Regions from separate parts of the Homo sapiens genome. Here all the other regions are linked to region 1. The links come from fine-mapping of genetic effects on gene expression. A gene starts in region 1. Each other region holds a variant in brackets. All regions are shown on one strand. Distances are between the middles of the regions.

Region 1 (4,088 bases):
CTACCTGGTGTGTATGTGTGTGTATATATATGTATATTCAACCAGACCCTACTCAGAATAGTAAAGCATATTTAATTACAAAAACTCTTTATTATTTCATAAGAATAGTAGAGAAAATCTGACAGAAAGGGAAAGGAAGGTAGGTAATTAACATTTAGGGAGCACCTATTTTATGCCAGCACTTTGCTAGGACTATGACATAAAGAATGCTATATAACTCTCACAACCATCTCATAAGGTATTATTACCTGCTCTCCATTCTCCTCCTTTTTAGGTTAGGAACAGGTTCACTGAGGTTAGTAACTTGCTCATGGTCACCCACTTGTAGTGACAAAGCCGAATTCAAATGTGGTTCTTTTTTCACTTTCCCCTGGTGTACTAAAGAGAAAGCTTGTATAGAGTCTTAATCCATACGGATGTCCATTATATTTAAGGCAGCCTGGTTGTTAAAATAAGTAGCACCATTCAATAAGAAAAACCGATGTTATACATCTATAGATGTATATACTCATTTCTAGAAATACTCATTTCTAGTTATATTGTGCTATTCATTTTCATGCTAATTCAGAAGAACAGATAATAGGGTCTGTAGTAGTTGTAAGCAGCCCTTGAATGTGAAAGTGTTAACAATTTTAATCCAACTCCAAGAGGACCAGAACTTGGCATTCCTTAGATGCAGCATTTAAAATTGTTCCCAGTGCCCTTTGAATGCTACTTTTCCCAGCCAAGGCAGGCTTATGTGGAGGAGATAAAGATGATAGCTTGAGGACTAAGGGTCCAACCCTATATAAATTACATTGGGGGAAATAGGGGAAGGTCTTTGAAGCTCAGAGTCTCTGACTGATATTTTGGGTAGATTTCAACCCTCTGCATTCTCTTCTATTTGTTTCTAGAGAAAACTGTGGTAGAGGCCTTAGTGAATCCCAGAGTCAACATCTGTCATCACCTTTTAGCAGGTAAGGCTAGGCAAACCTTTGAGTTTGGAATGGGTAGGGAAAATGTGGTCCCTCACGATGAGCCTCCCTACCCATTACTTTGCTAGAGGGACTGAAAACCCTTTAAAGACTTGGCCTTGGAAACAGAAGATCTAGGGACAGGTAAGGTGGAAAAAGGAGGTGAACCTACACCCCAAAGGGCTGGAAGTAACACCTTGACTATTTGCACCACGCCAGCAAATAAAGCTGAGAATCAGCTCAGCCCAAGGCCTGGAAAGGAAGCACAAATGCATGAAGAATAACTTGAACCTCATGGTTCTTTCAAAAGTCTCTTCGGCCAAAGTGTGAGTTGAAGAGTCGCATATCATTTGAGACTCTCTACTCATGCTCGCTGTTCTGAGGTTTGACTTTACACAAATCCAGCTCAGCTGCAGAAGCAAGCCACAATGGGGACCTCAGAGTGAGCCTGAAGACTCCCCACACCGCCTCTTTGAAGTCCCTTCCAGGTTCCCCACCCGATGTCCTCTAGCTCATTTGAGCCTTGTCGCCCTTTATGCTATTCTTCCGATATGGGTCGTAATTCCGTCTATCTAGGGTTCTTCCTGCGCGTGCCTTAGAGGCCAGAAGACCCTGACTCACGTGCGTGTCCTCAAAGCCCCCAGCCCCAAGCGTGGCTGCTGGTGGGCGCATCAGTAAACGCGGGTGGAACGGAACAGGCTCCTCCAACCTCTTTTCCACCTCTGATTTCCGTTAGACATTTGCTCCGCACGGCGGCCTCCGCGAGGCAACGTTGGACACTGGGAGGACAGCCGCAGAGGCCCAGGGCGCACTTCCTGCCGGGCGGGGGCGGGGCCGCGCCTCCTCCCTCCCTCCCTCCGTCCTTCCTTCCCCACGTGCCCCTTCCCCGCCCTCCCCGCCCCCTCCCGGGCGGCCGCGGCGCCTCGGGGGCGGGGCCGGAGCGGGTGGGCGGTGTGGCTGTGTGGGCTGGGCGCCGCGGCCGTGCTGCCAGCGGACCCGCGGCGGGCTCGGGCGCGGAGCGGGGGCGCGCGGCGCGGAGCGGAGCGTCTGAGCGCCGGCAGAGACCAGCCGGCGGGTGGCGGCGGCCCCCAGCACGGCCGGTGCAAGGCCTCGGGTTAAGCGGCGGCCGAGCGGGGCTCGGCCCGGGGTGCTCGGGGAGCTCGCCGCGGCGGGCAGCAGGAGGAAGCGGCGGCGGCGCGTCCCGAGCGGTGCGCGCCATGGCGGGCGGGCCCCCCAAGGCCCTGCCGTCCACGGGGCCCCACTCCCTGCGCGACATGCCGCACCCGCTGGCCGGCTCCAGCAGCGAGGAGGCCGTGGGTGGTGACAGCACGCCCAGCCCGGACCTGCTGATGGCCCGCAGCTTCGGTGACAAGGTGGGGCGCCTGGGGCCGGGGAGTGGGAGGCTTATTTCGCTCCCCGTGGGGGGGATGATGGATCCGGAGCCTTCGTGGGCCTGGGGCCGCGCCCACCCTGCCGCCCCTTCCCGGGGGACGGGCGTGTCCTGGCCCCGGAGCCCTCGGCGAAGCGTCTCCTCTGCCGCCTCCGCGGGGTCGCAGCCGCAGAGGGACAGGCTTCGCTGCCTGTGACTGGTCGCAAGCACCGGTGACAGCTGGTGGGGAGGGGTCCAGCCTGCGTGTTGGAGCGGGAGGCGTGTGTTCAGGGCAGGGCGCCTGTGTCCTCGGATGGGGTTCCGAGTTCCTCCAGGTGCATCCCTGCAGGCTGAGCTGCTGCATAACTTGTAGCTCCTCCAGTTTCCGAGACTGCACAGAAAGCAGGAGTTCCTGGCTTTCCGTGCTGGGACCGGGCAGCCCTGGGCTTACAGCGAGAGTCTTCTTCCCCCTAGTCAGTCATGTGGGGAGTGATCTTTGTTTAGGTTTGCTGTTTGTCCTGAGGAGTCACCTGACTCAGACCCCAGCCGGCGGCGGGAGGAGAGCCTCGTTGTGGTTTTCTGTCTGGGGCTCCATTCACCTCCGACGGCCTACCACTCTGTTTAGGTTTGGCAGAGGCTGGTTTTGTGGTTGATGGAAAGAAAGCTCGCCCTTTGACCTTCTTTGTACGGAGGGAGGCTCCAGATTTTCTTAGAGCAGCACAACCCTCCTGCTGCTTGGAGAGACAGCAGAGTCCAGGCAGGGGTAAGGGACGACCTCCTCCCTACCCCCATGGCCATTTCAGCTGTGAAGGAGACTTGAGCAGTGATTGTATCCCCGCTCCTGCCGTCACTTAGTCACTAACTGCAGAAATTAGAATTGTTCTCAGGTCTTGTGATCAAGATTTTCTCTCCCTAGTAAAATACTAAATGAATTCCCCCTTGTCCCAATATTAATGGGAGCAGGGGACCTAACTTTCTTCTCCCGTTAGAGGGGACACCATGTGGTACAGTGAAAAAGGAGTATGAGAAAATATAACCTGCCCTCCTTGCAGTCAGAAGGTCACTGAGCACTTAAAATCACTAGAGAGTGCGACTTGATGTACCTTCTGCAGAGGGTTTGTGAAAGCAGGGAGTGAAGTTCCAAAGCATTAGGAACAGGAAAATTAAAAAAGCTAATGGAGGCCAGGTGCAGTGGCTCACACCTGTAATACCAGCACTTTGGGAGGCTGAAGTGGGATGATTGCTCTGAACCAAAAGTTTGAGACCAGCCTGGGCAACATATCGAGACCCCGTTTCCACATACGCACACAGCATGGTGGCATGCACCTGTAATCCAGGCTACTCAGGAGGCTGAGGCGGGAGGATTGCTTGAGCCTGGGAGTTCAAGGCTGCAGTGAGCTATGATTGCACCGCTGTACTCCAGCCTGGGCAAGAGAGTGAGACCCTGTCTCCAAAAAATGTTGAATAACTGAATAAATTTGCTTTCTTATCGACAAAAATTGGTCTTAAAATAGTGTAGGAACTGGGGGTTAAACCTCATTTCCTTCTCAGTTCTGTGTGGGACACTGAATTAATTATCTATTGCTGTGTAGCAAATTACCCCAAAACTTATCACCTGGAAATAGTGTCTGTGGGACAATCTGAGTGGTTCTGAATTAGGCCTTTCTTGAGGTTGCAGTCAAGTTGTTGGCTTGGGCTGCAGTCATCTGAAGGCTGGATTAGGGGAGGATCCACTTCTAAGCTCACTCACATGGCTGTTGGCAGGT
Region 2 (4,088 bases), 140 kb after region 1:
GGCATTTACCGAGTATTTTAATGCATTTTTAAAAAGCCCTTGCTTGACTCCAAATGATTTTAATTAAGGGATCTTTTCAGTAGAATTACTTGAAATTCCACTCCTCCACGTTTTTTTTTTTTTGTTTGTTTGTTTTTTTTTTTTTGAGACAGAGTCTTGCTCTATCACCCAGGCTAGAGTGCAGTGGCACAATCTCGGCTCACTACAACCGCTGCCTCTTGGGTTCAAGTGATTCTTGTGCCTCAGCTTCCTGAGTAGCTAGGACTACAGGTGTGCACCACCACACCTGGCTAATTTTTATGCTTTTGGTAGAGATGAGGTTTTGCTATATTGGCCAGGCTGGTCTTGAACTCCTGGCCTCAAGTGATCCTCCCACCTCCCGCCCAAAGTGCTGGGATTACAGGCGAGAGCCTCTGCGCTCGGCCTTTGAAATTCCATCCCTTTAAAATGGCAAGGGGGTGTGGGGGAAGAAACCCAATTCCATCTCCTCTGTTGAAGGCCATCCTGAAGCCTCCCCTACTGACTCCAGGTACCACTGACCACACCTCCTTGACTGCCCAGAACCATGAACACCACTCTGGTAACATTTCATTCTCAATATAGATAATTAATTAACAATACATTACAGATAAACTCAGGGGCATATAATCTTGTGTCCCTTGTGCCTCCTAGGTAGCAGGTTCAATCCCTGGTGCTGAGCTAGGACACCCAGACCATGGCATCCCTGGTGTCAGCCCCATGATGCAGAGGGCTAGCAATGTCCTGCCTCCTCAAGAATGACAGACTCACCAATATAGAACATGTATGTCTCTTTCACAAAAGCCAAGAGGAGGGCTCCTGACCCAAAGGAGACCATCCCAATCATGATCATGGTGGTGTCCCGAAAGCAGCGGGAGAAGACCAGGACACCCAGGAAGCTGGTGATGAAGATGGTGTACCCTGCAGCCATACCATAGCCCACCTGCACTTGGTTCCAACCGAGAGGCTCCCTCAGCACAAAAAGAGGGATCACGTCCACTGTGCCCACCACCGCCAGGTCATATATGATAGCACCCACAAAGAGCAAGGCAATGGTGGTTTTATGGGGTTTTGCTTTTCCAGGAGATGGAGGGTGCCCCACTGCATACTGTTGGTCCAACTGATCAGGATCCAGAGTGCGGTATGTGCCAACCGTGCCAGACACGGTATCCACGGCGGGGAGCTCCTGGCTGGGTTTGGCCACCGACTCAGGGACCTTTAGCACCAAAAGGCTGTAGAGCAGGGCAAACGAGGCACAGCTCACGCTGCAGGCCGTCAGTATCAGGCCCTGCCCAGAGTGCCCAGCCATCTGCTTGAAGAGATGCCCGGAAGCCATGCTCCCGCAGAACCCCGCCAAGCCCAGCATCAGGTCAATGAGGATGAGGCGCACAGAGCGGCGGCCCTCGGAGGAGCCCAGCGATCCCAGCGCCATGACCCCGGACCAGAAGGCGGAGAAGCCGCCGAATAGCCCGTTCAGCGCCGCCGCCCCGTACAGCACCTCCACTGGCCAGTCCAGCAGCACCTTGAGCAGCAGCCCGAGGCGGGAGAGCAGGAAGCCCAGCAGCGACATGCAGATGGAGATCTTTCGGTGGTAGCGGTCGCTGAGCCATCCCAGCCCGTAGGCGGACAGCAGGGGGGACAGGCCCACCACAAGGTTGTAGATAATGTAGAAATTGGAGATGGCTCTCTGCTGTTGGTCCTCTAGAGCCCCCCGGGGCGATGGGCTGGCACTGTGGTTGGAGGAGCCTCCGGTTCCGTAGGACGCCTTCACCACGAGGAGTAGCCCCGCATCGTAGAGGGAGGCAGCCACCTGGGACGA[G/T]GCCACCACGGGCTCAACCCAGGTCCTCGGGTGGAAGCGAGGCAGGTGGCCCCTCCGCGGGCAGGTGACCTCGGGGCTCATGTGACCTCTCTGATGGGGATCGAAGGGCTTTCTGGCTGCAGTGACAAGGATATGCTCCCAAATTCGGCTGCTACGGCTGCTCAGGTTTCAGTCCCGGAGCGCGAGTGTGCTCCGTGCGCCGGGAGCGCGAGTGTGCTCCGTGCGCCGGGAGCGCGCCGGCCAGTGGCGAGCAGAGCCAGGGCACGCAGCGCCTGTGACAGCAGCCCGCCCAGCAGCCGAGTGACCTCCCGAGTGACTCCTCCTCAGGCCAGAAAAGGCCGCGCTCCACCCTGCCCTCGCCACCTCAGGCAGAGTAGGACTGGCGACAGTCCAGGGAAGCCAGGCGCGGGGGAGCGCACCGCGAGTGCTGGCTCCTGGCGCCAGCACCCCCGGGGCCGACGGGTCACGCTGCTCCTGTGAGCGCGGCCGCCTGACGGGGCCGAATTTCCCCACAGCCAGGCGTGCGTGCCCGGACCTCCCGCGGATCTCTGCGGACCCCCCACCACCGGGGCAGGGGCTGGAAGGAAGCTCCCCAGGACTGGCTCAGGGAGCGTTTCCAAATTCTCCCATCCCAGGAAGGCAGGTTTGCGCGAGGGGTGGGACGCCTAGGATTCTGCCTAGGATAAGTATTGGGGTGTGAAGTTTTATTTATAGATTTAATGCAACAGGGGCCCATGTGCTATAGGCAGCTGGGTAGCACTTTGAGAGAAGTAAAAACTTGGGAGCCGCCAGGTCCAGGCTCTTCTCCAAGCCAAAGGCCTCTTAGAGAAGAGTCCTGTTTGGTACACCTGCATTGGTGGGCCTAGTGCCTGGGCCTTGTCTAGAAGGCTCCTGCCCCAAACCCCAGGGCCAAGGGAGAGACGGCAAGATCCTGCCAGCCCTAGATGTCCCCCTAGATGATAAAACTGGACTCTTGGGCAGGGGCTTGAGCCCACTGGAAGGGGCAGAGTCACCAGGGTCCTCATCTGAATCAAGTGCCCAGGTCCCTTTCTGCTTGTTAGTAGTCACTCTTCTTCTGTCTGTGGGCTCACTCCCCTGGGCTGGGCTGAGACCTCCACTTCCCAGGTGGCCTCGCTTCTTGTTTAGGTACATACTTCTGCAAAGAAAACCAGGGTGATGGATGGTGCAGGGGCCAAAATGTACCACAGAGCATGACCTGTTCCATGGTCAGCCCCAGGGATGGAGACTCAAAGCACACAGCCTTCCTGTCCCTCTACCCACAATCCACTATAGCTCTGGCAGCGTGGATGATCAGGAACCCAAAGACATGAAAGGGAGACGCAGGTATGCAGGGAGAGCTTAAAATGCCACATGGATAATATACTCATGTAGGGAGTAGGGACTGGATTCCAAATGATTTAGTGTATCTATGTGCTCTTTTGGTAGTGTTTAGGTGGGCTATAATCTCCTCCCCTGCCACCCTCAACCTCCAGCATGGCCCAGCCTCCTCGTGTCTAGGCCCAGACGACTCTGCCTTCTGCAAAGAGAAAGACACACCTAGTCTTGCCCTTCAAGATGTGCCCCATGGATCTGGCCCAGCAGCCCATTTCCTTCTTCCTCCCCCTCACCTAGGGTCACCTTGGGAGATACATGTTTCACCCAACCCAAGCCTGGCTCTCCCACTCCATTCTTAATTTTTCCAGAGGCTACAGCAAACAGTCCAAACACCTTGATCCTATGAGGGGTGGAGACTCCAGTGAATGAGTAGGTTATGGGGCCAGGTGGTATTCCACAATCAAATATGGCCATGAGAACAACCTGACCCAGATGGACCACTCTGGCCACTTGATCAAGGAGTCTGTGCATTCTAGGGCTCTAGACTGTAGGGGGCAGCCCTTGTCATCTCTGGGAGGGTCTGTGGTATTTCAGTTCTTCCCATTGTCTTGGGAAACCAGGGACATTTGAAGGGTCTCTGAGAGAGTCACATCAGATCTAGAACAGATCTAGTAGGAGCTGGGTTATTAGGATGCTAGTCAGCCCTAGGAACCCCCAGGCTTCTGAGTTCTCTGGCCTGGAAATGAACAAGACTCAGGGTAGTCAGTGTCTCTCCCAGTTTAGGCTACTGTGGGTTGGATTATATTCTCATCATGTCCCCACTTCTTGCTCCATCTCTGAATGCAGGCCCCAGGTGAGCTAGCACCTGGTCATCCTCTGCAGCCCAGGCTACCAGCAAGTAGAGCCCTGACCTTGC
Region 3 (4,088 bases), 160 kb after region 1:
GGGCCTCTGTATCCATGGGTTCCACATCCATGGATTCAATCAACCACCCATTGAATAAAAATATCCAGGAAAAATAACCATATAACCACAAAAATAATACAAATAAAAAACAATGCAGCACAACAACTATTCACGTAGCATTTACATTGTATTAGGTATTAAGTAATCTGGAGATGATTTAAAGCATACTGGAGGATTATACACAAATACTACATCATTTTATGTCAGGTGCTTGAGCATTCACAGATTCTGATATCTGTGGGATTCTGGGAACCAATCCTGCACCTATATGGAGGGATGACTGTACACTATTCAGAAAGCAGTTTCTCCACCATCCTTGTTGGGTCCTGGTGAATATGAAGCAAGTGAGCAAGAGACATCAGATGATCATGCAACCAGAACTATCCATTATGAGAAGTTTTCTTTCAGACTACCACATCATAAGTTTGGGTGGGCCCAGCAGCAATCTATAAGATGGAAGTGGTACACCAGTGGGATAGGGCACATGTAGGGTCAGAAGGAACAAGCAAGCCACAAAAGCAGGTGGTCCAGATCTCATGTTGTCCAGTGCTTCTCCTTCAGCACCAGCCACATGGGGAACCTCTTATGACAGCTGATGGAGGGGAAGAAAAGGTTGAAACTTGGTTCACAAATGGGTCAACTCGATATCTCAGTACAAACCAGAGGACAGTAGCTGCATCACAACCCTTACTTAGGTATTGATATGCTTTGGATGTTTGTCTCTTGCAAATCTCATATTGAAATGTGATTCACAGTATTGGAGGTAGGGCCTGGTGGGAGCTGATTGGATTATGGGAGTGGATCCCTCATGAGTAAGGTTTGGCACTATCCCCTTGGTGATAAGTGATATTTTGCCCAGTTAATCCACATGATGTCTGGTTGTTTGAAAGAGTTTGGGACCTCTGCCGTCTTTCTCTCTTGCTCCTTCTTGCCATGTGATATGCTGGCTCCCCCTTGACCTTCCACCATGATTGTAAGCTTCCTGAGGCGTCACCAGAAGCAGATGCCAGCACCATGCTTTCTGTACTGTGAGCCAATTAAACCTCTTTTCTTTATAAATTACCCAGTCTTAGATATTTCTTTATATCAACACAAAAACAGACGGACATAGGTGTGGTACTAAAAGCTAGCAGTGAGAAATCCTACCAATGGGGAAATCTCTAGCAGGTATGTCTGGTCATGTAAGTTCCCCAAGGTATGAATATACATGGTTTCACGAGTAGTAGCAAATGGTCTGCTGGGGGGTTTGGAAGGAGATAGATTGAAAGATCAGGGTTAAGGAGCTCTGAGGAGGAGGCATGTGGGCAAACTTATGGGAGGTGTGAAGATCTTTGTTTCACATGTGCATTAGCCCACTGGAGTATCTGTTATAGAAGAGGCATTATCCAACAAATACAGACCAAGTGACTCAGCCAGTTGACATCATTTGGCTTCTGTTATTAGATACCTGGGTGTTGGAATAATGAGTGCATTTATAGAGTAGCCACAGTGGTAGGGATGGAGACTCTGCATGGACCTGACAGCTGATCTGGCTGTTGCTTCTGCTCAAAGTCCAGCCTATCAGCCCCAGAGACCAGTACTGAAACCCTGATATAGCCTCATCCCCTAGGAAACTAAGCTGCCATTTGGTGGCTATTTGATTGCATTGGATCCCTTGCACAATAGAAGGAGTAGATACCATCCTGACCAGGCTCAACTTATATTCTGTGTATCGGGTTGTCTTTCCTGTTGTGGGGCCTCAGCCAGTACCATGATCTGAGACCGAACGGCGTGTTGGATAACAGCAAAATATCAGAGCTAAGCATTCTACTTCACAGCAAAAAAGTATATAGTGGACACCTGGCCATGGGACCCACTTCTTCTATCTCAAACTTTGTCACCCAGAAGCCACCCTATTAGAGTGGCAGAATGGCCTTTATGAAACCAGTCAAGATCTCAATTTAGAATTAACACCCTATAAGGATGGGGTACCATCCCCCAGGAGACCCTAAATCAATAACCATTGCATGGTGCTGTTTTCTGTCTCCAAAAGGTAGACTACATGAGCCTGGAAACTGGGGGATGGAAGTAGGCCTGGCCCCACTTCTCATCTCTCTCAGTGATCTTGGGAAATTTGTGCTTTCCATTCCTGCAGCTTTAGCACTAAAAGGGGCTGCCTCCACCAGGGGAGACAGTAAGAATCCCACTGCAATTTAAGCTATGGCTGTCGCTGGGGCGCTTCCAGTTCCATGTGTCAAAAGAACAGCAGTAAGAAAGGGAATGCAGGGGCAATTAAGGTCACTGCTACTCAAGGGGGACAGGAAGAATATGTTTGGACCCCACCATGAAGCACATCTTGGTGTTCCCA[C/A]ACCCAGTGGTAACGGTAGTTGGAGAATTGGAGCAGCCACAGTCTGAGAAAGGCATAGTAAATCAAGGCTCAGACACTTAGGGATGAATGGTTTGGGTCACCTCACCAGGTAAGCCGCCTAGACCAGCAGAGGTACTAGCCAAAAATGAGGGGAAGACAGGATTGTAAATGGTGGAGGGGATGATGAATATCATTTATGGTGTCAGGATAGCTGCGGCAGTAGAGGCTATAGTTCATCCTACTAATCTTTCTCTTGTAAGTTTCCCAGCAAACAAGCCAACCAGAATTACGGGAAAGTCGTTCCCAAAGGGATATCAGAGAAATATGAGAGGTGAGCTGCAGTGGAAATTGTGGTATTCACTCATGTGCCCCCTTCAGGGCCAATGTACCTAATTCTCAACTTCTGGTAATATCATACTGCCAGCCCACAGCTGAGAATATGAGAATCTCCCTGGACTGGAAACCTGTAGGAAATATTGAGAAAACTTTGAATTTCCATAAACTGTAGGATAGGAGTTTAAACCAGTGTTCTCTAGAACTTGGGAGAGAACCCACCTGATGACTGGATTATACCAGTGCAGAATTGATCTGCCTGGGAAGTTTGAAAATGGAGATTGACTTCAAATTTCTGGGCTTGAAAAGAGAATATGAGTATTCAAAGCAAAAGTTTGTAACACTTGAGCATATCTGATGAAAACTATATTGTCCTGGTGAGGGCTGCAAGGTTGAAAGGGCAGTGATCCCAGGTCTGGATAATGTAGCCAATATTTCTTTGGTGATTTCTGAGGTCAGAATTGTCTCCTGGGAGAAAAACGAGATACAGACTATCAAGAAGCTGATACAAATCAGGAATATGAAGTTCCTTTCAAGTGCTGCTGGGCCTTATGTTCATACTAACGCTCTGTTCTCTGCTAATGATTTTATAGCAGCTGCTTCCTAGCTATTCCTCTTCGAAAACACTGTGGGTGGGAGTAAATGGCATGCCTGAAGTGTCTATGGAAAATAGCCTGTTAATGGGGATATTATCTGTCCCTGAGCTCAGAGGTGCAAAAGAGACAGAGAAGACCTTTCTTTGCATCTCCTGGGGTGACAGGGAGGCATCAAAGTCATATCTTATAGGCTTTATCCTCTTGCATCAAAATAACAAGATCTCATACTCAGGAGAGAACTCGTTTGGAATGCTGTGTCCTTGAGGTTTCTTGGAGTGGTCATTTCTGACTGTGTGACGCTTTTGACAACTATGGATGGAGGGTGTATCTGTCTTGTGACCAGCCGCCCTCTTGATGTCCACATTGGAGTATTTCCAGAAGAAAACCTGGGCAATGACACCTTCCTTCCAGGCCAGTTTTGAACCCAGCTTATGCTCTGTAAAGGACTTTATGACATTGCTCTTATTCCCATTCTTCACACAGAAATATGCTTGATGTTTGAACCAGTCAGGTATTTGAAATATGTTTGAGATGTGACTTAATGTGACCAGAAAAGTCTAAATGTATTTAGGAAAGAGGCCACAGAATTGCTAAGTCTAATTTTGTCATGCAAATCATGTGCACACAAAACTTTTTAATGCAATATTTGAGAAAACACTACCCTTAGGTAACTGGCATGACTTCATCTGCTGTGGTATGTACAAATTCTTTCATTCGTTCCCTCATTTAATGAGGACTTGTTGGACACCTGCTTGTGAAAGACACCTGTGATGTCAGGGAGACAGTCCTCA
Region 4 (4,088 bases), 110 kb after region 1:
TCTTTTCAGTGCTAATACACTTGGTATAACTAGCTCCAAAAAGAACAAAGAAGGGATGCCAGGGAGAAGGCTTCACAGAATTCCTAGTTATCTTCAAAAAGTAAATAAAAAAAGCAGGGTGCTGTTTTAGGCCCTGACCCACGGGTAGCCTCATCCTGGGTGGGTGCCAGATGAAGAAGTTTAAATGGGTGGTGTCGGAGTGCAGATGAGGAGAGATGGGCCGTGTGGAGGGGACCTGGGGTGTCGGTGTTGGGGGGCTGGCCTGTGGTGTGTGTGGGGGGTGGGTGTGTGGTGTGTGTATGGGGAGGGCACGTGGCATGTAGGGAGGGCGTGTGGCGTGTAGGGAGGGCGTGTGGTGTGTGTGGGGTATGTAGTGTGTGGGGGTGGGTGTGGTGTTTTGGGGGAGCATGGGTGTGGAGGGGAGTGGGGCATTGGTGTGGGAAGTGTGGAGGTGTGTCGTGTGGAGGTGACTGGGATGGAAAGGTGCACAGAGCTGTTCCCCCTCTGGTTGAGAGAAGAGCAGAGGGAAAGTGGAAATTGGGCTCTCTGGACAAACCTCTTGAAGGCTGTAGACCTTGGACAGCTCTTAGAACCACCGGGATAGTGAATGTTCTAGAATGGGAAAGACGTGGTGGGTAGTGAAGTGAGAATCCCAATTGTAAACTGCCAGCAGGGAGACTTCTACATACAGAGCTAATGCAGACCGGAGAGTGGGGCCTCGTGTCTGTTGTTTCCAGACCCTTCTGGCAAGTGAGGACCCTCACCATGGGGCAGAAGACCAGGTGCCTCCAGCCAGAGCAGGCAGAACTCCCCCATCCCCTCAGCTGACTTAAGTCCCACCGCAGCCACCCTCTGCCAGTGCGGTGGTTTCCATGTGACAGATGGGGGCCCGGGGTCAGGGGAAGCGTGGAACTTAAGTGCCAAAGTCAACAAATGGTGGAGCCGGTATGGAGTCCAAGTGCATCTGGCTCCAAAACTGGTGCCTTTCCCCAGGGCGCGGGCCCCAGCAGCTGTGCTCCCTGAGGGGGCGCCCTGCCTTTCCCGAGGCAGGCACGGAGAGTGCGTGTGGCCTTCCCTGGGGCTTCACTCTCGTGTCATTGCGCAGGCAAGCTCGAGGATCTCTTGCTGTCAGCCTCTCTGCTCCTCATCTCATGCCCTCACCTCTCCCTCCCTCACTCCCCACTGACCATTCTCTGAAGTTTGTTTTTATCTATAATTAAAAAAGCATTCATTCAGAGAGCCACTGACTTTCTATTTGCCCAATTCCATGGCCTCTTTTCAGACTTGACCCTGTATCAGTGTTTTCTTACCTGTTTTCACCTCACAGCTCAAATAGACACTGAAAACGCAGTTGCTGGAAGCTGGAGGTGACCAGCCTGGGGGCTCTGGCTTCCCAGAGGGCAGAGGACCAATCTCTCTGCCACTCACACATTGCCAGTTAGGGAGCCCTGTCCCCTGCTCACTCAGCAGCGTGTGGCTGTCACTGGTCCTGGAGCCTGTCCTACAGCAGCCACGAGCTCCCCTTTCCTCCACACTTTGGGATTATATCTGTCTTGTGTAGTCTTTGGGGATTTTCCTAACCTACTATCATCATGAGAGCAGATAATGTGACATCTCCAACCCAGCTCCAAGAAGGAGACTTAAGTTGAGATTTCTGTTCTAGGGCCTGGAAATGCGTGGCACATGGAAGGAGCTCAGTAACGCATGCATGCAT[G/C]CATCCATCCATCCATCCATCCATCCAACCATCCATCCATCCATCTATCTATTTATTTATTGCTCTGTTGCCAGGCTGGAGTGCAGTGGCTCAATCTCGGCTCACTGAGTAATGCGTTTTTAAATGAATGTTGAGTGAATTTAAGTTACTGTCCCGTTCCCCAGCACACAGAAATGCACAGTCCCATCCACGTGACTCTTCTGTCATTGCACTAACAACCTATATTCTGTAATGGAAATTCTCATGAGAGATTGGGAACCAAGGTGAAAAATGCAATTTTGTCACCTCTGTATAAATTTTTATCTTTTGAGGTCTTATCTGGTGATATTTTTCCTTGGTGTCATGATAAGCAACACCCAACCATTAGCAGTGCTGTGCCATGTCAACATCCTTCAGACGCATGGTAGCACAACCGTAACAATACCTCAGTCACGAAAATTAAAACATTGAGATAAGAGGAAATGCTGAGGGTGGTGGCCCACACCTGTTATTATCTCAGCACTCTGGGAGGCCAAGACAGGAAGATCGCCTGAGCTCAGGAGTTCGAGACCAGCCTGGGCAAGGTAGCAAGACCTCGCCTCTACTCCAGATAAAAATATTAGCTGGGTGTGATGGTGTGCATCTGTAGTTACAGCTACTCGGGAGGCTGAGGCAGGAGGATCGCTTGAACTTGGGAGATTGAGGCTACAGTGAGCTGTGATTGTGCCACTGCACTCCAGCCTGGGAAACAGAGCAAGACCTGTCTCAAAAATAAATAAAAAATAAAAGTAAAAAGAATGCTTAGTGTTACTGGTCAGTGAATTGATAGTTACAAAGACACTATCCAAAAAATCAAAGGTGGAAGAATACATGCCTGAGCATGAGTTGCCAGCGCTCCCCTTCTTCAAGTTGGGGAACTTCACAAGCTGGTCACAGACAGCTCACCCCAGTTCCTCTTTTTAATTCTTCCATCCTCTTCTAACTCCTACCACCCCTGGGCTTCTCTGGCTCTGTTCTCTCTGATTCACCACCTCCTCTTTCTGTGCCCGCCTTTCTGCCTTCCCGAGTGACTTTTGCTGAGTCCTTTATTAACCCTACACATGCTGGCTTCTCTGTGAGTTCAAACCTTGGGCCCTGCCTCCCTCAGCCCCACCTTTCCCTCCATATATTTAAACAAGATTATACTGTGGTAAAATATACAGAATATAAAATTTGCCATCTTAACCATTTAAAAGTGTACAGCTTAGTCGTGTTAAGCACATTTACATTGTTGTGCAATCGATATCTGGAACTCTTTTCATCTTGCAGAACTGAAACTCTGACCCATTAAACAACTCTCCATTCCCCCTCCTGCCGGCCTCTAGAAACCCCTGTTCTACTTTCTGTCTCTATGACTTTGACCATTCTAGATACCTCGTATCTAGAATAATATAATATTTATCCTGTGACTGGCTTATTTCACTCAGTGTAATGTCCTTGGTTTATCCATGTTGTAATGTGTTAGAATTCCCTTCCTTTTTGAGGCTGAATAATATCCCATATATATGGGACATACACACACATACATACATACACATACATATACATACCACATTTTGTTTATCCATTCATCAGTGGACATCTGTGTTGCTTTCATCTTTGGGCTACTGTGAATAATGCTGCTATAAACATGTGTATACAAGTATCTCTGAGACCCTGCTTTCAATTTCTTTGGATATGTACTCAGAAGTGGAATCCAGCAGGATCATATAGTAGTTCTATTTTAAAATTTTTGAGGAATCTCCATACTGTTTTCCATAGCAGCTATACTGTTTTACAATCCACCAACAATGTACAAGGGTTCTAGTTTCCCTATGTTCTTACCAACGCTTATCTATTTTTTTGAGACAGAGTCTTTCTCTGTCGCCCAGGCTAGAGTGCAGTGGCGTGATCTTGGCTCACTGCAATCTCCGCCTCCCGGAGACCAGCCAGGCTGGTCTCGAACTCCTGACCTCAGGTGATCCACTTGCCTTGGCCTCCTGAAGTGCTGGGATTACAGGTGTGAGCCGCTGCACCTGGCCTATTTTCTGTTTTTGTTATTTTTTTTAATAGTAGCCATCCTGATGAGTGTGAGGTGCTATCTCACTGTGGCTTTGATTAGCATTTCACTAGTGATTATGATGTTGAGCATCTTTTCATGTCCTTGTTGACTGTTTATCTTCTTTATTTTTATTTTTTTGAGATGGAGTCTCGCTCTGTCGCCAGGCTGGAGTGCAGTGGCGTGATCTCGGCTCACTGCAACCTCCACCTCCCTGGATCAAGCAATTCTCCTGCCTCAGCCTCCTAAGTAGTTGAGACTACAGGAGCACACCACCATGCCCAGCTAATTTTATTGTATTTTCAGTACAGACAGGGT
Region 5 (4,088 bases), 110 kb after region 1:
AGCCTCAGGTTCCTCATCCCCTGCCACCCTCTGCCAGTCTTGCGAGCTGCAGTTCCCTCTCCGTGCCGCTGTGGGCCCTGTGGCCTGTGCACAATTCCTGCGGTGGGTCCTGGTGTCTTCTCTCCTCTGTCCCTTGTGTGTACCGCCACTCTGGAGTGCCTTCCAAGTGGTCAAACATCTCACATCTGTCATCTTTAAAGAGCCGCCTCAGTGCTGTTTCCTCCATGAGGCCCGATCTTCCCAGGTTGGCCGCCCCCTCCATCCTCCTCAGCGTGCTTATCACGGGGGCTGCAGGGGAAGCGACAACACTTACGATATCTTGCCTCAGTGTCTAGGCATGTTCCTGTTTCTTCCCAACTAGACTGTAGGTTACGGGAGACAAGATTTGTCTGTTGAGACCCAAGCACTTTTGTATTCCTCAGTGCCAAGCACAGAATGTGTTGTGAAACTGAGAAGCCAAATATTTCCCAGACCGAGGCTCAGGCAGTCCTAAAACCCACAGCCGTGGTTTAGACCCTGATTTTTCTGGGTCAGTCAGAGTTCCCATCTCCAGAACACACCTGGGAATCTTTAAACCTGGGAATCTTTCCTCTGTGAACAGTCCTGATTCAGAGACCCTGGCTGCCCTCCTCTCCACGTGTCCTGGTGAGGTTCTCTTTCCAGGGCTTTCCATTTTCTCCTCACAGCAGAAGTTTCGTTAAGCAAACAGGAAGTTGCTCATAGGCACCCTCACCCCAATGCAAGTGTGAGCAGTGGCCAGGAGACGGGTAAGGGAACTGGCCTGTGCCTGTGGGGAGGTGAGGCCAGCCAGAGACACTGGCTCGCTGGGCATCTTTCCATTGAGGCTGATTCCTGGAGTGACTCTGGAGAGGCAAGACTGGGATACTCTGGTTTTTATTTCAGTTTTTCCTGAGGTAACCAATAGTAATGGGTGGTCTTGGGAGGAGGCAAAAGAGACTTAAATCATGGCATCAGAAGAAAAAGTCAGTCTCTGACCTGGTATGGTGGCTCAAACCTGTAATTCCAGTGCTTTGGGGGACCGAGGTGGGAGGATCACTGGAGGCCAGGAGTTCGAGACCAGCCTGGACAACATAGCGCCACCACATCCTACTTATTGTAGAGATGGGGGTCTTACTATGTTGCCCAGGCTGGTCTCAAATTCCTGACCTCCAGTGATCTTCTGCCTTGGCCTCCCAAAGTGCTGGGAGGCATGAACCACTGCACTCAGCCCAGTATTTTTTTTTTCCCTCTTCCAGAAGCTTATGTGCTTTGAAGAAGGCCTCTTTCCCCATCTTAACAGAAAAATTCCTTGCTTTTAAATTTCCAGAGTGTCTAGTTATCTCTCTCTCCAGCTCATCCTGGTTTCACCCATGTCTAGTTCCCGTGTCAGGCACATTCAAATTCACTTGCCTTGGCCATGTCTCTTCCCTGACTCCTGTGTTCTACAACCATCTCCACGTGGTCTGTGGAGAAGATGGCTGAGTACCCTGAAGGTGTCCAGCTCCCTCAGGCCTGTCTTTCTCATTGGCATCATTCTGGGTCAGCTCCTTGTCCACGAGGCTTGGGTATAAACCTCCTCGATTGGTGGAAGTGGACTCCCAGGGGTGAGCCATGGCTTGGAGACAGTTTGGTTCATGGGCCCCAGCACACCAAACATAAAAGGCCTCACTTGTGGTTGGGATACATTTGGCAGGTCGGGGGTTTGACCTGGCTTTGGGCCTGTCGGCTCCCTGGCCGCCATCAGGGCTCAGTGAAGTGCTTGAGTTAGGAGAGAGAAGCCAGCTTTGGGAAG[C/T]GCTGCAGCCACAAAGCCCAAACTCCAGCTGCACAGGATGGTGAAATTCACCAAAGCAAAGTGAAAGTTGTGAAACTTCAAGTGACATAGTTCCCTTTTGAGAAAGTCTTCTAAACCTCTTTAAGAAAAACTTGAAATAGCCTGCTGTATATTTCTTCTTTGAATTTCAAATTTTTTTGACATGCATAAGTAACTTTCCTCCTGTTTTCTCAGACTTCTCTAACTCTCCATTTAAAAGTATCTGCTATTGGGAAAAGCATAAACAAGCCTCCAGTTTATTTATGATGTGGGGTTCAGAGGAGGCAGCTGGCCAGTAGTTGTCTTATTGCAATTCTCTGATTAATGAGGAAAGGCATCATCAAATGTCACAGCAATGGAATAGTTCATGTGATCTGGGAGAACCTACCTCTTCTCTAGTTCCAATATGGGACACAGGAGAATAGCAGGGCAATACAAATGCTGTATATTTGCAAAGTCTGCACACACTTTCAAGTGTGGATGAGTAAATCCTAAAAGGAACCAAAGACATATGAGTCTGAATTGCAATGTTTCTTCTTCCTGTGTGTAAATGGGGGTGTTTCCCCCACGAGTCTCTGTTGTGTTTGGATGGGTTTGAAGATCTGGGTTAGGAGAGCCCCTTTTCAGAGCTCCTCCTTAGACCTGAAAACCCAAGGTTTTGCTTTCAAATAAATGCCTCCAGAGGAGGGAGCGTGTTGATAGCATTTTAATGTAGGGCTTTGGCCTTTGACAAATGTGTGCTCAGAGGAGCTCAAGGCAAGAGATGCCAGTTTTGTGTGCAGGGCACCCATGTGTGCCTCCCTTTTCCAGGTACCGGCGGACGTCGAGAAATGTCAGGATCGGATGGAGTGTTTCAATGCTGACCTGAAAGCTGACATGGAGAGGTGGCAGAACAACAAGAGGCAGGACTTCCGGCAGCTACTCATGGGGATGGCTGACAAGAACATCCAGTATTATGAGAAGGTAATGAGTGTGCCCAACAAGACTGGTTTCTAATGGCCAGAGCCTTTCACATGGGCCTACCAGAAATCCACAAGCTGGGAATCCTGCTAGTCTCATCTCCTTCCCTTATTTTAGCTGCTTAGTCTTGGCTCCCGCTTCATGCCCTTGCCCAACCATGTGGCTGCAGTGCTGGGTTTGGCAGCAGAGGGGGTGCTCACAGGGGTTTCCCTTGCACATGCTGCTGGGGAAGCAGCCCATTCGTCTTCCATGCTTTCTGGGCCTGGCACTGGTTGCTTCCCAGAGCCAGTCAGACCTTCAGCACAGTGATGCTGCCACCGAATGGAGGCTTTGGGGTTACTTTACTCTGTGTTGGGGTTCTGTACACAGGGTCCCTTCAGTTTGGTTGTGCAGTGAACCCCTTTGGTCATCTGGTGAAGCCTATAGACCCCTCACCAAAATACTGTGCATTTGTTTTTTAAATAGACTTCAAAATATTGATTTTAAATACGTAAAATAAAGGGATGTAGGATTACAAAGGAAAGCAATTCTATTAAAAACTTTTACTCATGGATCCCCTTGACCAGGTTAAGCAGCGCACGCACATGCGCGTGCACACACACACACACCCACACACCCCACTACCACCACCACACCCCACACACACACTACACACACACCACACCCCCCCACACTACACACACACCACACATACACCACACACCCCCCATACTACATGCACACCACACACCCCCTACACATACACCCCACATACACACCCCACACACAACCCCCCCACACACGACACCCACACACCACACCCACATACCTCACACAACCCTCACACACAACCCCCACACACACCATACACACACCACACACACATAGAGATGACTCTTATCAGGCTACAGCCCAGTCCCCTCAATCAAGGTTTGCTTGATTCGTATGTCCAGCAAACCAGTGCGAGGCCAGGTGCAGTGGCTCACGCCCGTAATCCCAGCACTTGAAGAGTCCGAGGTGGGAGGATCACTTGAGCCCAGCTCAAGACCAGCCTAGGCAATGTAGTGGGACTGTCGTTACAAAAGATACAAAATGAGCCAGGTGTGGTGGCGTGTGCCTATAGTTCCAGCTACTCGGGAGGCTGTGGCAGGAGGATGGCTTGAGCCAGGAGTTCAAGGCTACAGTGAGTCATGATTGTGCACTACTGTACTCCAACCTGGGTAACAGAGTTTTTTGATCCTGTCACGCCATATATATATATATATATATATATATATATATATATATGTATGTATGTATGCACACACACACACACGTATACACACATATATATACACAC
Region 6 (4,088 bases), 120 kb after region 1:
TTCCAGTCTGGCCAGATGGGTTGCTGGCTGCACTGAGGGTGATTCTTCTCAGAAGATGGGCTGCCTGTGGTCAGGACAGGGCATACCAGTCTGGACTCCACCTTCCCAGACACCTACTTTAAGGACCTGTGGAAACTGGGTGATCCAATTATAGGGCTGGGGCAACCCTGCTTTGGCCACCCTCATTTACAAACTTAGGTTGGGAGCTTGGGTTTCCTGTCTCACTTCCAAAAGCCTTCAAGATGGCAGCAGATGGACACACCCTCTCATTTCTTGTGTCTTGTCTGTCAGATGGCAGGAGGCCTGTATCAGTAAATTTGAGGAAAATGTTCTCTCCTGGGCCAGCCTCACAGCTTGCGTTGGGTGTGTTGGAATTGTTCTCTTCGGCCTTGTTCTGCCTTGTGATCTTTTCAATTCAGTGAATAAACCAGGAATCCATTTTTTCACCAACCCACCCTGTAGATTGTCAGCTTTTTGTTTGAGAGATGCCTGGTCTCACAGTTACATGTATCAGAGTGTGTGTAAGTTGTCTGTGTTAGAAAGGTTGGGGTGGGGGCTTTGTTGCAGGGGATTAGACTGTTCTTTCTTCATCATAATTTGAGATACATCCTGAGTATGACTGTCTAACCCTTTCTGTGTGGCAGAAAAATATGTTTTCCAGGTAGTTTTTACTACTACAGAGAGTCTGTAAATAAGTGCTTTAAAAAAATAACAAACCAATAAGATATTTGTCTCCTATATAAACATTCTGTGTATTTAGCACTTGAAAATCAACAAATCCAGAATTTAAAAAAATGCCACAGACTTTTCAAAGCCCAACTCTACTTTTTTGAGAATTTGTCCGTACCTACTAATATGCCTTATTCTTCTTCACCTAGTGTTTTAAAAGTCCTGGGTAGAAAGAGTTTTAGAAATGTAATCAGTTGTTCAGCTTCAATAATATAGAGATCTAACATAGTCAGTCCTCAGGCCCCCTAAAGAAACAAGCAAGAAAGTGAGGGCCATCACTAGGGTTGGCTTTGGGGAGGGGAAAACTAAGGACTGCTTTTGCCAAATGATATTTTTGATAATGTAAGGAAACACAGGGACCACAAAACCTTTTTTTTTTTTTTAAGTGTGAAAGATTAGTGCCTTTTGGCATACTTTTGATTTTAGAGGATATAGTATCGGCATTGACAAATCACGTAGAAACAAAGAATGCTATAGATGACAACAGTATTAAATGTTACTCCTGATTCTGCAGAACAGCTTTTGAAGATACTGGGGGGTATCTTCAAGCCTCAGAGCAGCTTGTTTCAGATAGAAATTCTCTATGGGTTGAAATGCCAAAAACAGAAAACATGATGTTGACTCATGTAATTTAGTCCATTTTAGCAGAGCCTTTAGTGTTAACACCAGTGGCGAGGAGCATTGCATATTCTCTGTCAGCAGCAGCACTCCCACACCAGGTGGTTCTGGGCTCTCTGTAGGCTGGTCCTAGTAGGTGACACCCAGCAACACCCCTGTTGGACAGGATTGATTGTTCGCAGTCTTAGACCAACACTTCAGTCAGAAATGTTACTGGGAGGAGGAAAGGAAAATCACTTTTTTTCCTCCATGTGGAAATGAGGAGAGAGGAAAGTGGATTGCAAACCAAAATGTGAGTCAGTGTGATGAAGCAGTGGCTCTGTCATCTCGGCCTTTATCCAATAACAAACCAGCATCTCTTAAAGGCGCTTTTGGCCTAGACACCCCTGAAGTTTGGATGAAGTCTGGTGGATTCCCTGTC[T/C]GTTGTATTTCTGTGTGCCTGTTCCCTTCATTGCTGTGAGTTGGGAGTGCATTGAGAGATGATGTCCATCTGATATATTCCTGTGAAATAAACTGCCAGCAAACTTTCTAACTTGTATTTTAACTGTTAAAGAAGAGATTAAAAACTTCGGCTTTGGACATGTCCACATTATGGACTGTCATCTTATTTTTAAAAGTCATTCTTTACGTTTAAAATTTTAAAATAAAAACCTTCTGAGGTATTGATGTAGTCCACCGTGTAAATGTTACCTTCTCTCCATGCTGCCATTATGCCAAAACAAAAGCTGTGATAAAAAAAGTGCTTGAGAGAGTGTGTTGATAAGAAAGTGATTTATTTACAGATGGAAGTCTTTGTTTCATGAAGCTACCAAACTTTAAAAAGAATGTCACCCTTTTTTTTGTTTGTTATGGAAACCAGAGATTGTAAAATGGAAAAAGAATCGTTTTTTTGTTGACTTTTTGATGCTGGCACGAGGTTTTTGTCCACTTTTTTCATATATCTGTGTATAAAAAAATTGTTGTTTACTATGGAATTAGTATTACATTTTGAGGTAAACAAAAGAATTTGTATTGCTTGATAAATATTAGCTTGTAAATTTAAAGTTTCTTTACTTCAATTAACTTAAAGGACCAATAAACCCATAAAAGATGCTTTCTTTATCTGGAGTCATGTCCTCATTTGTACCTTTTTGTAAGGCAGAAAAACATGTGTGCCTATTTTTCTGTTTTCTTATTTTCTCTTTACAAGTTTTCAGTTTGCCTGTAAGAATCAAGACATACAGAGCGACAGGAAAAAATATATATAATTGAACTATTTTTATTCTTCTTCACTTCTTTATAGGCCCAGTTTACCCTCAATTTACCCTCTTCTACATCTTCCACATCTGCACCAATCTGGGGAGATGAAGAAACTTCCTAGTGTAGTAGCCATCATGACTGGCAGGCAGGCCGACAGCCAGCTGAGGTATTTACTACATGAAAGATTTCCTGTGTTATCCCATAGCAAAGCACAACATTATATTCTGCATCAGGGCCAGTTAAGTTGACCTGATGATGGTAATGCATTGAACTTGAGTATATTTAAAATAGTGCTCAACTTGACTTACTTTAAGACTGCAGTCATACAAAATAAGGCAGCAAGCTGAATAAGACGTGGATCATGGATCAAATCTCAGCTTTTCCACTTACTAGCTATGTGGCTTTAGGCAAGTCACACTTGGCTGAATATTTAGTATTACGATCTTTGAGATGAAAACAAGACTTCCACATGGGGTTGTCGATAGGACTAGCAATATGGTATGCAAAGCACTTAAATGTCAGGCAGCTTCTCACTGTGATAGCCCCTTTCTAAAGACTTCCTAATTTAAATATTAAGGCTATTAGGATATTATCCTTAAGGATATGGCCAATTTAAATATTAAGGATAACAATCCTTCATGTATGCTTTGCCAGTTTTTTTGTTTAACAGGATATTCTTTTTTTTTTCTTTTGCTTTGTCACCCAGGCTGAAGTGCAGTGGCATGATCTCAGCTCACTGCAACCTCTGCCTTCCAGGCCCAAGCAGTCCCCCCGCCTCAGTCTCCCGAGTAGCTGGTGCTACAGGTACGTGCCACCATGCCCGGCTAATTTTTTTATTTTTCGCAGAGACGGGGTTTTGCCATGTTGCCCAGGCTGGTATTGAACTCCTGAGCTCAAGCAATTCGCTTGCCTTGGCCTCCCAAAGTGCTGGGATTACAGGCATAAGCCACTGTGCCTGGCCCTGTTTTCTTTTTAACAAGGTGATGGAAATAAAATACTGAAGGACGGTGTCAGATTGAAGGCCTGAAGAATGGGGAGGAATAAATTCCAAAAGCCATGGCAAGAAGTGATAAAGGGAGGTGAAAATAGCCGATTTAAGAGATTCTTGGGGGGAGGAGAATGGACCGGAGATGACTGGAAGATTGCCAGCCTGGGATTTGGAGGCGATGCCATTAGCTAAAATTAGGAGAGAAAGACAGAATATGGAGGCTGGGCGTGGTGGCTCATTCCTGTAATCCCAGCACTTTGGGAGGCCACAGCAGGAGATCACTTGAGCCCAAGAGTTAAAGACCAGCCTGAGCAACGTAGACCCCGTCTCTACAAAAATTAAAAATCAAAAAAGATGGAATGAGCTTAGGTGGTGGGGTGTGAGAAGGAGAACTTGGTTTCGCTTTAGGTTTGAGGAAATCCAGGTGGAGATGTTGACTTGGCTGTTGGAAATGAAGTTCTGGAGTCCATGGGGGTGGACTAGATTGCATGGGAAGAGAACCAAGGACAGGACC

The links.
Region 2: its variant is fine-mapped to the expression of SNX30 in whole blood (INTERVAL, PIP 0.99).
Region 3: its variant is fine-mapped to the expression of SNX30 in whole blood (TOPMed, PIP above 0.99).
Region 4: its variant is fine-mapped to the expression of SNX30 in whole blood (INTERVAL, PIP 0.97).
Region 5: its variant is fine-mapped to the expression of SNX30 in whole blood (TOPMed, PIP above 0.99). The same link has a PIP of 0.9 or more in blood mononuclear cells.
Region 6: its variant is fine-mapped to the expression of SNX30 in whole blood (INTERVAL, PIP above 0.99). The same link has a PIP of 0.9 or more in subcutaneous fat.

The regions. Positions count from the first base shown.
Region 1 is chr9:112,748,832-112,752,919 of GRCh38, forward strand. SNX30 (sorting nexin family member 30) reads left to right here and starts at 1,929. Exons shown (of 9, transcript NM_001012994.2): 1 at 1,929-2,326. The coding sequence starts at 2,171. It overlaps SNX30-DT (SNX30 divergent transcript), which reads right to left and starts at 1,734. Exons shown (of 1, transcript NR_186503.1): 1 at 53-1,734. RefSeq lists a silencer at 1,687-2,506 and enhancers at 1,776-2,697, 2,698-3,617.
Region 2 is chr9:112,888,764-112,892,851 of GRCh38, forward strand. It overlaps SLC46A2 (solute carrier family 46 member 2), which reads right to left and starts at 2,113. Exons shown (of 4, transcript NM_033051.4): 1 at 790-2,113. The coding sequence starts at 1,918. The variant G/T (reference allele first, on the strand shown) is at 1,838.
Region 3 is chr9:112,907,988-112,912,075 of GRCh38, forward strand. No RefSeq gene overlaps it. Among named protein-coding and RNA genes, the nearest start is that of SLC46A2, 19 kb to the left of the region's middle. The variant C/A (reference allele first, on the strand shown) is at 2,369.
Region 4 is chr9:112,856,054-112,860,141 of GRCh38, forward strand. The region is part of intron 7 of SNX30 (sorting nexin family member 30); the gene reads left to right. Among named protein-coding and RNA genes, the nearest start is that of SLC46A2, 33 kb to the right of the region's middle. The variant G/C (reference allele first, on the strand shown) is at 1,715.
Region 5 is chr9:112,861,627-112,865,714 of GRCh38, forward strand. SNX30 (sorting nexin family member 30) reads left to right here. Exons shown (of 9, transcript NM_001012994.2): 8 at 2,621-2,773. Among named protein-coding and RNA genes, the nearest start is that of SLC46A2, 27 kb to the right of the region's middle. The variant C/T (reference allele first, on the strand shown) is at 1,793.
Region 6 is chr9:112,872,540-112,876,627 of GRCh38, forward strand. It overlaps SNX30 (sorting nexin family member 30), which reads left to right. Exons shown (of 9, transcript NM_001012994.2): 9 at 1-2,448. Among named protein-coding and RNA genes, the nearest start is that of SLC46A2, 16 kb to the right of the region's middle. The variant T/C (reference allele first, on the strand shown) is at 1,769.